Linked DNA regions of Homo sapiens: region 1 is linked to region 2. Evidence: fine-mapped expression QTL. Tissue or cell type: monocytes. Region 2 holds a variant in brackets; the other region holds the start of a gene. All regions are shown on one strand. Distances are between the middles of the regions.

What was found. PIP is the estimated chance that this variant, and not a neighbour inherited with it, causes the effect.
Region 1: it holds the start of BLM, and the variant in region 2 is fine-mapped to the expression of BLM in monocytes (Fairfax 2014, PIP 0.95).

What each region holds. Positions count from the first base shown.
Region 1 is chr15:90,712,676-90,720,778 of GRCh38, reverse strand. It overlaps BLM (BLM RecQ like helicase), which reads right to left and starts at 3,433. Exons shown (of 22, transcript NM_000057.4): 1 at 3,339-3,433. It overlaps CRTC3-AS1 (CRTC3 antisense RNA 1), which reads left to right and starts at 3,639. Exons shown (of 4, transcript NR_120372.1): 1 at 3,639-3,798; 2 at 7,480-7,612.
Region 2 is chr15:90,820,090-90,828,192 of GRCh38, reverse strand. No RefSeq gene overlaps it. Among named protein-coding and RNA genes, the nearest start is that of FURIN, 44 kb to the left of the region's middle. RefSeq lists an enhancer at 2,009-2,608. The variant G/C (reference allele first, on the strand shown) is at 4,152.

The sequences.
Region 1 (8,103 bases), 110 kb after region 2:
CTACAAAAAATCAAAAGCCCATCTCTACAACAAATACAAGAATTAGCCAGGCATGGTGGTACACCCCTGTACTCCCAGCTGAGGTGGGAGGATCACTTGAGCCCGGGAGGCTGGAGCTGCAGTGAGCCCTATCTCAAAAAAAAAGAAAAGAAAAAAAAAATTCCTCAAGTGTCAGGTTTAAAAAGAAAGAAAAAAGAAAAACACTAAGTTATGAATACATTAAGGCTACAGCTACCTAAGAAATCTGTATAGCTAAATCTGTATAACTAATTTTATAGCTGAAATTTGGAAAGGACTCATGGAAAATAAAAATAGTTCAAGTGTTTGAAAGATAGGATTATGACTGGAATATTTTTCTTGACATTGAGAATATGTTTCAATAAAATACGGGAATTTTTAAAGAAAGTAAACTCAATAGTTCCCTGTCATTCCAGAGAACAAAGTCCATATGTCATAACTCCAAGAACTTTCACTCTCTGTCTTCAACTTGTATTTTTCATTCAGCTAATATCTACAGTGACTACTCTGTGCCAGGCATCATGGTAGGCACTGAAGTACAGAGATGGGAAAGACATTATTACTGCCTTCAAGGAGCTTATAGACTAGCAGAAAATAGACATGTCAACAAATAATTACAATGCAACGAGATAAGTCTGACAATCAAGTCTTTTCTTAAAAGACTATGGCTTCCCAGATTAAGGAAAAACAGGCAAATGATAGAGAAGCTTTTCAAAGAACACTGAATTGGATATTGAAGGACAAGTGGAACTTTACAGACAGGACTGAGGTTGTGAAGAAGAGTAGTCTATGAACTAGTGGTACAAAGGCTGAGGTAGAATAGTATGTGTTAGCGATACAGAATGCTCAAAAGCCTCTGGTATCATGCCAAGGAGTTTAGATTTTATCCTACAGGTAGTGGAGACCCTTAGGGGCTTTCAGCACTGAAGTCCTAGGATTATTCTACGATTATCTTGGACCTCTTTATTCTATCCATTTTTCTCTTAGAAAAAAACACATATATATGTAAATTAAAATATATATGTATATCTTTTAATTTTTAATATTTCTTACATAAAGATACAGAAAATAGAATTACACCCATGTACCCACCAACCAAATTTAAAAAGTTAAACTCGGCCCTATTCTCTCTCTTTTAAAGGCATAAAACATTTCAGGTAGATTGACTGACGGACTCTCACTCTGTCACCCAGGCTGGAGTGCAGTGGTGCAATCTTGACTAACTGCAGCCTCCTGGGTTCAAGCGATTCTCGTGCCTCAGCCTCCCCAGTAGCTAGAACCACAGGCGCACACCACCACGCCCAGATAATTTTGTATTTACTATAGAGAGGGAGTTTCGCCATGTTGGTGAGGCAAGTCTCGAACTCCTGGCCTCAGGTGATTCGCCCGCCTCATCCTCCCAAAGTGCTGGGATTATGGGTGTGAGCCACTGTGCCTGGCCTCATTTCAGATATATTTAAAATCTCACTCATGGCCGGGCGCGGTGGCTCGCCTGTAATCCCAGCACCTTGGGAGGCGGAGGCAGGCGGATCACGAGGTCAGGAGATCGAGACCATCCTGGCTAACACAGTGAAACCCCGTCTCTACTAAAAATACAAAAAATTAGCTGGGCGTGGTGGTGGGTGCCTGTAGTCCCAGCTATTTGGGAGGCTGAGGCAGGAGAATGGCATGAACCCGGGAGGCGGAGCTTGCAGTGAGCCAAGATCGCGCCACTGCACTCCAGCCTGGGCGACAGAGCGAGACTCCATCCCCCAAAAACAAAAACAAAAACAAACTCACTCATTCCAGGAATGACTATGAAAAAGGAAAAAACAGATAAAAATTTAAAAATCAAAACAATAAACTATCACTCATTCCCCTTACCTTTTTCCCTTCCCTTCCTGCTCATAGGTAATACCACCTGTCCTGAAGCGGATGTGTAGAACTTCCCAGCATGATGATGTTCTACTGCACATCTAACACTTTTCCTGATTTTTTAACTCTTGGTTTCCTCAGTAAAACGAAGGAAATAACTACTTCTCCAGGTTACTGATAGGACTGTAAACTATACTTATAAGGTACCTGTCATGGTGAGTGGCATTGAAAGTGACACAGGACCCAGAAATTTCATTTCTTCCCAGTAGATTATAAGCTACTGTCTGACAGTATAAGCAGCCCAGCTAACAAAATGTTGATTTAATTAATTCTATTTACTATTCCCCAAACAGAATACTTTTGCCTACCCGCTTCTTCATCTTCTGATCTCTCATGCAGTCTCTCGAATTCCTGTCCCTTAATCTTGACAGTGACACACCAGTGTTATTTATCTGCATGGGTGGCACAAGGAGCTGTCAGTCACCTGCTCCATCTCACGCCATGAGGTACCTAAAGTTCTGTGTGACCTAAGGACAGGTGAGGGCTATAGGAGAAAGCCTAATGTTGTGGGACATACTTTAAAATCAGGCGCTTAGTTCAAATCCTGTATCTCTAGCACTTAATCACCAAATGCTCTTTCTGTACGGAGACAACCTCTTTGTACTTCAGATTCTCCATGTCTAAAATGGGGACAATTTCATCCGCTTCTCTGGGTAATGATAACAGAACCCTTACTGTGTACTATGTAACAGGTAGCCTTCGAAGCATTTATTATTGCATATATTAAGTCGTTTAATCCTAACAAAAACGCCAGGAAGTAGAAGAGACCATTTCCCCCATATGACAGACGAAAACCAAGACACTTAGTGTTTCAGTAACGTGCAGTAGACACAGAGCTAAATGTGAAGGAGCCAGAATTCGAACCCAAGCAATCTGATGCAGTATTCTTAAGCACTTCGCTTTGCTGGGATATCGTAAAGCTACAGTTGTAAGATCAAGGGTGCCAGGAACATGGCACACAGTAGACACTCAAAAACAAGAGTAGCCCAGCTCGTGATTATGGAAGGCCACAGAAAAAGTACAAAGTGTTTTCGTTGTTCCTCAGGAGGGACACGGAGGTAGTAGTGCCAGAGGTCTGGGCTGGGATTACTCTGTGCAGGGCATCATGTTACGCACTGGAGTATATGGGCAACAACATGCCAGGTCCTAGCCCATGCTCGGCCTCCGACGCCCCGGGAGACCTTGGCAGAGTTCGCCCCCGCCCCGGGCCTCTGTTTCCCCATTTGGGAACGTATTTATGTATCTGCTGTCCTCCCAGGATGTTGGCCAGACTAGAGGACTCAGCGGGCCGAGGCGAACCAGTGCAGGAAACGGAAGAACCCGAGCGGCCTCCAGCTCCGGGCCGGGCCGCCAGAGCAGGGCTAGATCAATGCGGACCGACCCGTAGTTACGCGCGCGGTACTCACCTCGCACGCAGACTCCTAGCGGACGGAACCAGGATCCAAACTTCCCGCGCCGCAACCACGGCCGCCGCGCCAAGCCCTGGCTCACTTCCCGCCGGAAGCTTGCCTATTCCGATTGGCTGCTTCCTGGGGAAGCCGACCAATACTGTCGCACTCGGACATCTGTTCCCGCCCCCTCAGGCTGCTGGGGCGGGGTCGCCGTACAGCGCCGGGAGGGACGCGTATCTCCAAAGCCCAATCAGAGTCCGGACGGGAGGGTCAGATGACTACGGTTACATCTCGGGCTTCCGGAGCTAGTTGGGTCTTTGTTTTTGGTGTTTTAGAGTCGGTGAAGGCTTTAAAGGAAGTAGGCAGCTGGAACCCGGCTGTGGCGGGTTGAAAAGCCCGGGCGTTTGAGAGCTGAGACTTGCCAGTTCCCACAGGCCAAGCCAGGCGTCTGCACCCCATTCTCTTGGTTCCGACGGTGTGTCTCTGCGATGTTTTGGCGGTCTCTCCTCTCCATCCCCTTAATAATACTGGTCTCTGTTTCACCCGTACCCCTCTACACGAGCAGGTGCAAATTGTCATTGAACCGGGAAAGTGGGCACACACTCAGATGCCTCCATGGACACGTGAGAAACCATGCTTCTGTTTCAGCCTATTGCTGACACGCGGGAATGTGGGCCCTGTGATGCCAGATCTTACTTTCTTTCCTTTCTTCCTCTCTTCTCCCCTCTCTACTTCCTTCCCTCTCTCCTTCCCTCCCGCCCTCCCTCCTCTTTGTGTGTGTGATAAAATCTATCTAACATAAAATTCACCATTTTTAAGTGTACAGTTCACTGGCATTAAGTACATTCACATTGTTGTGAAACCATCACCACTATCCATCTCCAGAACTTTTTCATTATCCCAAATAGAAAATCTGCCTGTTACACAGTAACTCCCCGTTACCCGTTTCTCACAACCCCTTATAGCCGATATTGCACTTTCTGTCTGTAAGTGCGAGGTACCGCATATAAATTGAATCATACAATAATTGCTCTTTTCTGATTGGCTTATTTCACTTAGCATAATGTCTTCAAGGAGCATCTATGTTGTAGCATGTATCAGAATTTCTTCCTTCTTGAGGCTAAATAATATTCCATTATACATGTATACTACATTTTGTTTATCCATTCATCCATATAAATGGATGCTTGGTTATTCCCACCTTTTGGCTATTGTGAATAATGCTGCTATGAACTTTGGTATACAAATAATCATTCTCCACATAATACGCAGAAAGAGTTTTCTAAAATGTAAAAATCTGTTCAAGTTACCTCCCTCCTGAAAATCTTCTATGGTAAATTGAAACCAAAATATGATACTATTAAACACTCCATAGAATAGCTGAAATGAAAAGACTGACAATTCCCTTAGTTGCAAAGATGCAGAAATGGGACTCTCATACAGTGTTGATGGGAGTGTAAAATGGTACAACCACTTTGGAAACATCAGTCTCTACTGAAATCAAATTTACCCCTACCCTATACCCCAGAAATCCCATTTCTAGATATTTACCCCAAAAAATGAATGCCTTTATTCACCAAAAGACTCATAGCAGCTTTATTCATAATAGCCAAAGGGAAAAAACCCAGATGTCCACCAATAGATGAATAGATAAATTGCAGCTTATTCATATAACTGTATACTACTGTTGAAGAATAATTTTAATATCAAATATAATACAGATATAAAATAAATGTTAGAGATTTTATTTAACTCATTAATGAATGAGATATCCAGAAAGATTACAACTGCTTCAATGGAAAATTCAAAGTACCACACACATAGTCAAATGAGGAATAATGAAATAACTACAAATATATACAAAAACTGGCAGAACTGATGAAATCCACAGCTTAGTAATCAATTGCATTCTACTGAAAACAATTTGCATTTCTTTTTTTTTTTTTTTTTTTGAGACGGAGTCTCACTCAGCCGCCCAGGCTGGAGTGCAGTGGCGCAAGCTCGGCTCACCGCAACCACCATCTCCCAGGTTCAATAGAGTCTCCCGTCTCAGCCTCCCGAGTAGCTGGGATTACAGGCACCCGCCATCATGCCCAGCTAGCTTTTTGTATTTTAGTAGAGACAGGGTTTCACCGTGTTGGCCAGGCTGGTCTCGAACTCCTGACCTCAGGTGATCCGCCTGTCTTGGCCTCCCAAAGTGTTAGGATTACAGGCATGAGCCACCGTGCCCGGCCACAATTTGCATTTCTATAGACAAGAAGTGTCTATAGTTTGTATAGTTGTTCTGTAGCTCAAAGACAGTGAAAGGTTTAGAGTCTTCATAGAATCAGACATCCTAGAAAAGTAAGCTGGACAGCTGGGCACCTTGTTTTTCAATGACACCCAGTAATCATTTTTTTGTTGTTTGTCTTAGATGGAGTCTTGCTCTGTCACCCAGACTGGAGTACAGTGGTGTGATCTCAGCTCACTGCAACCTCCACTTCCCAGGTTCAAGCGATTTTCCTGCCCCAGCTTCCCGAGCAGCTGGGACTACAGGTACGTGCCACCACGCCTGGCTAATTTATTGTATTTTTAGTAGAGATGGGGTTTCACCATGTGGTCCAGGCTGGTCATGAACTTCTGACCTCAGGTGATCTGCCTGCCTTGGCCTCCCAAAGTACTGGGATTACAGGCTTGAGCCACCATGCCTGGCCCCAGTAATCTGTTTTAGACCATTTCAAAGCTTTTCTCAGTTTTTTTCTGTATTACAAAGTAATAGGAGGATGAACTACTGGTACATACAATATAGATGAAGCTCAGACACTATGCTGAGCACAAAAAGAGGTAGATAAAAGAGTATATAGGGCCGGGCGCAGTGGCTCACGCCTGTAATCCCAGCACTTTGGGAGGCCGAGGTGGGTGGATCACGAGGTCAGGAGATTTGAGACCATCCTGGCTAACACGGTGAAACCCTGTCTCTACTAAAAAATACAAAAAAATCAGTCAGGCATGGTGGCGGACGCCTGTAGTCCCAGCTACTCAGGAGGCTGAGGCAGGAGAATGGTGTGAACCTGGGAGGCGGAGCTTGCAGTGAGCCGAGATCACGCCACTGCACTCCAGCCTGGGCGACAGAGCAAGACTCCATCTCAAAAAAAAAAGAGAAAAAGAGTATATAGTGCATACCAGGTTACCCCTGGAGGCAGAGGTAGATGAGGAAGCTCCCAAGGAAATCTTATGGAGTGCTGGAAATTACATATCTGTCTTATATAGACATTTAATATAGATAAAGTAATATATAAATCATTTATATATAAAATCATTATATACATACAATCATTGAGATATGTATTTTTTCAATTTTTTAAAATTTATTTTTATTTTTTGAGACAGGGTCTGCCTCTGTTGCCCAGACTGGAATGCAGTGGTGCCATCTTGGCTCAGTGCAACCTCCACCTCCCAGGCTCAAGTAATTCACCCACCTCAGCCTCCTGAGTAGCTAGGACCACAGGCACATGCCACCACGCCTGGGTAATTTTTGTATTTTTAGTAGAAATGGGGTTTTGCCATGTTGCCCAGGCTGGTCTCAAACTCCTGGCCTTAGGCGATCTGCCAGCCTCAGCCTCCAAAAGTGCTGGGATTACAGCCGTGAGCCTCCTTGCCTGGCCAAGGTATATATTTAAGATTAAGATGAGTGCACAAGCCTTTCACCACCCTACGCTAACATCTACCTTCCAGGTGGGAGGTAAAGGTTGCAGTGAGCTGAGATCACACCACTGCACTCCACCCTGGGCAGCAGTGAGAATCTGTCTCAAAAAAAAAAAAAACACAGAATCCTTCCAGCAGCTCCCATTTGCCTTCAAGGTGAATACCAAACTCCGATTGAGTCCCTGCTTCCTCTCATATGTCATCTGTCCCTCATCCCCATTTTCCTGTCATTTCCTCAAGGTGTTTTATAGTCTTTCCAGTTTCCTGGCCTTTGCCTCCAAATCATACCTCTCATTCATCTCTCAGGTCTCAGGACAACTTCTCTGCAAGTTGTTGGAGAAGTTGGGAAGTTGGAAAGCCTTACCTAATCCTCCAAATCTGCCTGTGTATCCCTCCTAGGTTTTCCCATAACAGCAGTCAGCATTTGTATTGGTTGTGTTGATACTATTAGTGTGCCTGTCTTCCTCTACAGAATATGCTCTCCATGAGGGTGTTCTTCAGGGCCTACCACAATGGCTGGCACTAGAGAAGGGCACAAAATTGAAGAACAGTGAAGACAAAAGCAATAAGATGATTAAGGCCATGTGAGACAGCAACAATATCAGGTGAATGTCACCCTTTATCGAGTTGTGAGTATCCAGCCTCTCACTTTGGGGGATACTGTTTGAGCCTAAGTAACATTAGTGGCTTTATTCATTTGGTAGATTGTTTGTATCTTTGCGTTGTCTCTATCCTGCTTTTTCCTTGGCCATTTTGCTATTAAAAATCTGTTGATTTACTCTGCATTTTCCCATAGAGAAGGGTAGCCTGAGGAGTTATTTAACAATGATGTGTTTTGGCCAGGCGCGGTGGCTCATGCCTGTAATCCCAGCACTTTGGGAGGCCGAGGCAGGCAGATCACGAGGTCAGGACATTGAGACCATCGTGGCTAACATGGTGAAACGCCGTCTCTACTAAAAATACAAAAATTAGCCAGGTGTCATGGCACACGCCTGTAGTCCCAGCTACTCGGGAGGCTGAGGCAGGAGAATGGCATGAACCTGGGAGGTGGAGCTTGCAGTGAGCCGAGATCGCGCCACTGCACTCCAGCCTGGGG
Region 2 (8,103 bases):
GCTACAGGCTACTTGGGCCATGACTAGCAGCAAAGCTTGGCCCTCTGACCGGGACCCTGGAGGGCAGTTGGGCCAGGATGTCCTGCTGGGGCGCCCTGGGTGTCATCAACCCCTGGCGCTGTTCTCATCTTGCCCCACTTTGCAGTGATCTGGAGGGGCCAGCCTGGTGAACATCAGGCAGATCCTCATTCGTTTCATGGCCTTGGTGATTCAGCTGCTTTGGCTGTGAAAAGGGAAAAATTACTGGACCCCTCCGAATCCCCTGCGGTTGTGAGGATGAATTCGTGTGAAGAGCTGAGCTGAGATACAAAAATCGCAAGGCCGGGCGCGGTGGCTCACACCTGTAATCCCAGCACTTTAGGAGGCCTAGCTGGGTGGATCATTTGAGGCCAGGAGTTTGAGACCAGCCTGGACAACACAGTGAAACCCCCACCTCTACTAAAAATACAAAAATCAGCCAGGCGTGGTGGCGTGCACCTGTAATCCCAGCTACTTGAGAGGCTGAGGCAGGAGAATCACTTGAACCCGGGAGGCGGAGGTTGCAGTGAGCCGATATCATGCCACTGCACTCCAGCCTGGGACGACAGAGCGAGACTCCATCTCAAAAAAAAAAATGACTTGAACCCGGAAGGCAGAGCCTGGTGCACTCTAAACACAGGAGCTCAGGAACCGCGAGAGAGCTCAAAATAGATCCATGACACAAGGTGACAAAGATAGTATTGGAATTTTTTGGTGAGGATATGGGAAAAAGGATCCAGCTGTTCACCACAAAACTGAAATTTAATTTCTCTGGGACGTTTCTGCTCTTTCCTTGCTAAACTTCCCTCCTTCTCCTTTCCCGCCTCCCACCCGGCCCCAACATCCCCTCTATTGTCCAGCCCCAGCCTTCTGCTGGCACAGCCCTGACCAAAAGCGGGGTGTGGGGGGTTGCCCACAGCGGCCCCCAAGTGTCCCTGGGACGCGTGAATCACGACAAGGGTTACAGCTTGCCAGGCTCCCACTGCACACGAAGCACATTTGGACATTGCAGACTCTGCATCTCTGTGGCAAGGACTGCCACAACCCCCTTGGACCCAGGAACCCCCAGGAGGAAGCGCTAGTACCGGGTGTCAATGTGGCTACCCAGCGCCCGCTGCTTCTGAAGCTAACCTCGAATGCGTCGCCCACATCCATGGCTTCTCTTCTGGGCGCTTCACAGTAACCGTGGAGTAAGGTGGGTAAGTTACCGCTACTCATTTTCCTTGAAATCCCATTTCTCAGGTGAGAGAGAAAAGCTCAGAGAGGCCAAGGGCTCGGGGCAGCTGTGGTGCCACGCCCAGCCCTTTGGTCTGAACTGCCCCATAGACTGCATACAGGTCCCATTGTGTCCGGACTTGGTGGGTTCTTGGTCTCACTGACTTCAAGAATGAAATCGCAGACCTTCACGGTGAGTGCTGTAGCGAGTTCTACAGTTCTTAAAGGCGGCGTGGCCGGAGTTTGTTCCTGACGTTCGGATGTGTTCGGAGTTTCTTCCTTCTGATAGGTTCGTGGTGCGGCTGGCTCAGGAGTGAAGCTGCAGACCTTCGCCGTGAGTGTTACAGCTCCTAAGGCGGCGCGTACTGGAGTTGTTTGTTCCTCCCGGTGGGTTTTTAATCTCACTGGCTTCAAGAGTAAAGCTACAAACCTTCATGGTGAGTGCTACAGCTCATAAAGTCAGTGTGGACCCAAAGAGCAAGCAGCAGCCAGTTTTACTGCAAACAGCAAAGCTTGCATAGTGTGTAAGGCAACCACGGCTGGCTTCGGCAGCCCGCTTTTATTCTTTTATCTGGCCCCACCCGCATCCTGCTGATTGGTCCATTTTACAGAGAGCTGATTGGTCCGTTTTGACAGGGTGCTGATTGGTGCGTTTACAATCCCTGAGCTAGACACAAAAGTTCTCCACGTCCCCACTAGATTAGCTAGATACAGAGTGTCCATTGGTGTATTTACAAACCCTGAGCTAGATATAGAGTGCTGATTGGTGCATTTACAAACCTTGAGCTAGATACAGAGTGCCAATTGGTGCATTCACAATCCCTTAGCTAGACATAAAGATTCTCCAAGTCCCCACCAGATTAACTAGATACAGAGTGCCGACTGGTGCATTCACAAACCCTGAGCTAGGCAGAGGGTGCCGATTGGTGTGTTTACAAACCTTCAGCTAGATACAGAGTGCTGATTGGTGCATTTACAACCCCTTAGCTAGACATAAAGATTCTCCAAGTCCCCACCAGACTCAGGAGCCCAGCTGGCTTCACCCAGTGGATCCCCCACGGGGCCTCAGGTGGAGCTGCTTGCCAGTCCCGCGCTGTACGCCCACACTCCTCAGCCCTTGGGCGGTCAATGGGACTGGGCGCCATGGAGCAGGGAGCAGCGCTCGTCTGGGAGGCTCGGGCCTCGCAGGAGCCCACGGTGGGGAGGGGGAGGAGGCTCAGGCATGGCGGGCTGCAGGTCCCAAGCCCTGCCCTGCGGGGAAGCAGCTAAGGCCTGGCGAGAAATCGAGCACAGCAAATGCTGGCCCAGGTGCTAAGCCCCTCACTGCCCCGGGCTTGCGGGCTGGCCGGCCGGCCTCTCCGAGTGCTGGGCCAGCCGAGTCCACGCCCACCAGGAACTTGCGTTGGCCCGCAAGCGCCGCGCGCAGCCCGCACCTCTCCCTCCACACCTCCCAGCAAGCTGAGGGAGCCGGCTCCGGCCTTGGCCAGCCCAGAAAGGGGCTCCCACAGTGCAGCGGTGGGCTGAAGGGCTCCTCAAGCACGGCCAGAGTGGGCGCCAAGGCCGAGGAGGCACCGAGAGCGAGCGAGGGCTGCAAGGGCTGCCAGCACGCTGTCACCTCTCACCATGTCCTGTCCGCTGCCGACCGGCCGCCTCCTGAACCCCTTGCTGTCTGTGATGACGCAGAACCACTGTGCGTCCTAAGATCATAGGCAGCCTGTCGTCACGGCTAATTGTAATGATGCTTCCTCGCCAGGGTTTCATGCTTCTGAGTGTGCACTGCCGTCCGATTTTGTTGTTTTCTCTTGGCTTTGGAGAGGGCTTGGCTCTCAGCAAAGGAGATGTGGAGTGAGCCACTCTCATCTTTGCCCCAGTGCTTTGGTGCCTGGGGTGCCCGGGGTGTCCCTGGGAGTGTCTGTGCTGTTGAGGGCACCTGCTGAGGCCTGCATCATCTTCCCTGAGGCAGAATCTTACAACTTTCGGGGGTTGCTGGCTCCTTTGACAACCTGAGAAAGATGGTGGTCCCTTTCCCAGAAATCTGCAGAGACACACAAGAATAATACATGCACTTGAGGGGTTTAGATACCCTCTGACATCTATTTCAGGATTTTCCAGGGGTTCCTAGAGCCTGGATTGAGACCTATATTATGGGGTGTTGTCTACCTGTTCTGCCAATTTCTAGAGCTCCAAAACCTGGATGCTTACATTATGATTGGATAGCTGGGTGTAGCCATGCCTGAAGAAGGCTTCTTTTTTTGAGACTGATTCCATAAAAGGATTAGTTTGAGAATGGCTGAGACCCACTGAGTGAAAACGATGTCCTGTTTATTCACCAATCAACTTCTGCACAAATATATGCGGCAAACAATGAGTACATATAGTGTCTACGTATTACAGTACAATAACCTTCACTGAGATCCAGACACTCCGTTATGGGCTGAGCAGGCATTATCCTATTAGTCTTCATAATCCCCCAGTCGACCCTGTGGGGGATCTGTCAGAGTGGTGGGAAAAACTATAGGGAAAGGATGCAAACCTTCCGAAAGGTCAGAAGGTTTTGCAGAGCCCTGGGGGAGAATAACTGAAGGCAGCTGTTCTATAACCCTGAGGCAGAGGGCAAGGAGTAGGTACAAGGGAGTGTGGGGGAATTTATCTTAAAAGGCTTGTTTGTTTATGTTGTCCAGGAACTGACCTTTGATCATGCGGGTGTGAGGTTCCCTGAAAGGGGAACAATACCTTTTTTTTTTTTTTGAGATAGAGTCTCACTCTGTCACCCAGGCTTAAGTGCAGTATCACTGTCTCTGCTCACTGCAACCTCTACCCCGGCAGGATTCAAGCAATTCTCCTGCCTCAGCCTCCCGAGTAGCTGGGATTACAGGTGCGTGCCACCACTCCCAGCTAATTTTTGTATTTTTGGTAGA[G/C]ACGGGGTTTCACCATCTTGGCCAGGCTGGTCTTGAACTCCTGACCTCATGATCCACCTGCCTTGACCTTCCAAAGTGCTGGGATTAGAGGCGTGAGCCACCGTGCCTGGCCACAGTAATTGTCAGTTACCTGCAGGTCGTGTCGGCTCCAGGTTTTCCACATTGTGCCTGCACTGAATAAAAGCAAGCAGCTCCAGCTTCTTGGGGCTGCTCTCTGGCCACTTGAGCCAGGCAGTCACCCAGCTGCTCTTATGCTGTATGCCTGTGTCTGAGAACTCATTTCATCCGTTGGCCAGGGTCTATGAGACAGATCTGGCACCACCCCACAGTATAGTGCTGTTATGAGCTCCCTGAGGCACAGAGAAGTTAAATAACTTGCTCAAGGGCTGAAGGTCACACAGCAGGTGGTAAAAGTGGCCTTTGACCCCAAGCAATCTGACTCCAGGGCCATTCAATAGTCTAAGAAATTGCAGGCCTGGCATGGTGGCTCATGCTTGTAATCCCAGCACTTTGGGATGCTGAGGCGGGCAGATCACCTGAGGTGAGGAGTTCAAGACCAGCCTGGCCAACATGGTGAAACTCTGTCGCTACTAAAAATACAAAAATTAGCTGGGCGTGGTGGCTGGCACCTGTAGTCCCAGCTACTTGGAAGGCTGAGGTACATGAATCGCTTGAACCCAGGAGGCAGGGGTTGCAGTGAGCCAAGGTCGCGCCATTGCACTCCAGCCTGGGTGACAGAGCGAAAGCCTGTCTCCAAAAAAAAAAAAAAAAAAAAAGAATGGAAAGGAAATTGGTAGGTGAGGCTGTCCCCCATCCTGTTCTGGGACTTGAATCTGTTCCCCGCTCAGGCCACTGGATCCTGCTGGGGCCCAGGCAAGAAAAGCGGGCTCTAGACCAACCCTGCAATTGCATTTTTCTAGAAAGCCTTCATCACACGTTGCAGCTTAAGGTCCCAGTCTAGGGGTTCTCAACGGACTGTATCTTGAAGTGGCATTTGCCTGGCCCGGCAGGGAGACAGGACTCTGTTCTCAGGCAGATTTGGGTGGTAACATGACCTCATTTGACTCCCAGGCTGGCAGGGCCTGGGAAATATCAGTTTATGCTTGTTTCCAGAGTTTTAAAGGAGGTTTCCTTTGCCTCTCATACACTGCAAAATGCCTGCTTGGAGTGATGCTTTGCTACTTGCTTCCTGGTTGCCGAGTCTCCCTTTAAGTTCTGAGTCTCTCTCTAAGAGGCCCTTTGGTGTTGGAAGGGGCTTAGAACCCTGGCTTTGTCATGAGTCCCTTTCCTGAAAACAGCTCCCGTGCAAGGCTGTTCCACTTCCACATTCTCAAACACCCTCCCTCCCACAGATCCCCAGCCCACCCCGACAGTCTTGTCCAACTTGAGGATGGAGGTGACAGCCATCACGGAGTCTAATGCCCTCACTTTTTTTTTTTGAGACAGGGTCTCACTCTGTTGCCCAAGCTGGCGTGCAGTGGTATGGTCATGGCTTACGGCTCACAGCAGCCTCAACTTCCCCAGGCTCAAGAGATCCTCCTGCCTCAGCCTCCTGAGTAGCTGGGACTATAGAAGCACATTACCAGCTGGGCTAATTTTTAAATTTTTTTGTAGAGACCGGGGTCTTGCTATGTTGCCCAGGCTGGTGTCAGACTCCTAGGCTCAGGTGATCCTCCCACCTTGGCCTCCCAAAGTGCTGAGATTACAGGTGTGAGCCACTGCACCCTACTCCCTCACTTTTGCAGATGGGAAACCAAGGATGAAGGAGAGGAGAATGCCTTGCCCAAGACCTCAGTGCTAAAATTCTCGGCAGCTGTGGTTTGTATTCACCTGGGGCTGGCAGCATCGGGACCACCAGGAGACCCGGTGGAAATGCACACCTCTGGGGCGCACTCCAGACTTGCTGCATCGGAAGCCATGGCACAACCAGCTCTCCAGGTGACTGAGGCTAACACAAGTTTGAGAACTACTGCCCTGGCCCTTGCTTTCTCGGCTGGGACTGACGTTCTGCACAGGTAGGACCCAGTGACAAACTTTCACCTCCCAACTGCTCCATGTACCTTGGTCCCCACAAAAGCCTTCCTCACACACAAGTAAACTCCAGAAACAAAGGATAGGAAAGAGCTAGAAGCAGACACTGGTGGTTATGAACATCTTCACATGATAGACAATGCAGCTCCAAAGTGAGGAAAACTGGCTTGCTATTTCAGCACAAACAAGACGCCAACCAGCCAAAAACATTGGTACACAAGCAAAAGAAAACCTAGGCCAGGCACGGTGGCTCACACCTGTAATCCCAGCACTTGGGGAGGCCGAGGCGGGTGGATCACCTGAGAGGTCAGGAGTTCAAGACCAGCCTGGCCAACATGGTGAAAACCCATCTCTACTAAAAATACAAAAAATTAGCCGGGTGTGGTGGCCCGCGCCTGTAGTCCCAGCTACTCGAGAGGCTGAGGCAGGAGAATTGCTTGAACCCAGGAGGCGGGGGTTGCAGTGAGCCAGAATCCCACCATTGCACTCCAGCTTGGGCCACAGAGCAAGACTATCTCAAACAACAACAACAGCAACGAAAATAAAAAACAGAAAGGAAAAGAAAACCTAGGCTGGGCATGGTGACTCCCGTCTGTAATCCCAGCACTTTGGGAGGCTGAGGCGGGCAGATCACCTGAGGTGGGGAGTGTGAGACCAGCCTGGCCCCCATGGTGAAACCCTGTCTCTACTAAAAATACAAAAATTAGCCAGATGTGGTGGTGCACGCCTGTAATCCCAGCTACCTGGCAGGAGAATCACTTGAACCCAGGAGGCGGAGGTTGCAGTGAGCCAAGATCATGCCACCACGCCACTGCATTCTGGCCTGGGTGACAGAGTGAGACTCTGTCTCAAAAAAAAAAAAAAAAAAGAAGAAAATCTAAGTGAAAACTGCTGAAGCCAGCTGGAAAGCGGCTTCTGTTTGTCCAGATGAAGCCAGCAGAAGTAACAAGGGAGCCTTCAGTGACCTGGGGCTCCGTCCCCACTGCCTGGTGCTGGCCGTGGGGCTGCAGGATTTTAAGGCCCTGCCAGCCTGAGGCCCCGTCTCCTCCTCCTATCTTATCCTCCCATGAGAAGGCAATGAGACAGATGTCTTCGCAGCGCCCCTTCACCCACTCACCCGCCCATCCGCTCATCTATCCATCCAACAAGCTGTTATTAGGCACCGGCTGTGTGCCAAGTCCCTGGGGCTGGAACCCAGATCTGGGGCAAAGGTACAGACCCTAAGCTGAGGCCTGTGGAGGGAGTGGCAGGCCCTGTGGGGCAGGGGTCCTGGCAGGTGTGCTGGGGTCATCCCCATTGTGCCGCTCGCTGGGCTGGGGCTCATACAGCCAGGTGGCCCAGCCTAGAGTGTGCATATCCTCACAGTGAGGCGGTGGCCAGGCTGGCACAGGGCACTTTCTGCTCAGGAAAGGGGTCCCGCGGGTGGGTGCTGTGTCCTTTCTGCTCTTCCTAGGTGAGGAGGGACCACAAAGGAGAGCACAGGGTGGCTTCAGCGGGGGTGGCTGGACACTGGGATGGTCAGCCTGGAGGTCACTTGGCCGTTTCAGCCTCCTGGGCACCCTCCCCAACTCCTGCTGGCCCAGGTGCCCTGGGGTCTTCACCCTCACCCCACTTACTCCAACACTGCTCTCTCCTTCCCCCGGGGCGTTTCCCTCCCTGCCTGTGCCCTGGTTGAAGGCTGAACCATGCCTGGAGCTCTGCTCTGGTTAAGAAATGTTTGTGGAATATCTGACCAAAAGGATGCTGCAGCAGCCCCGGAGGCCAGGACCAAGTGGCATGTTGATGGTGCAGATGAGACACTGGGACTCTGAGAGGCCACAGAACTTGCCAAGGGCACTCCATGGCTGAGGAAGGGGCCAGGTCCCGCCCATTCCAGACTGGCTCTCACTGGGTGCAAGGGACCTGGTGGCGACGGTGGCCG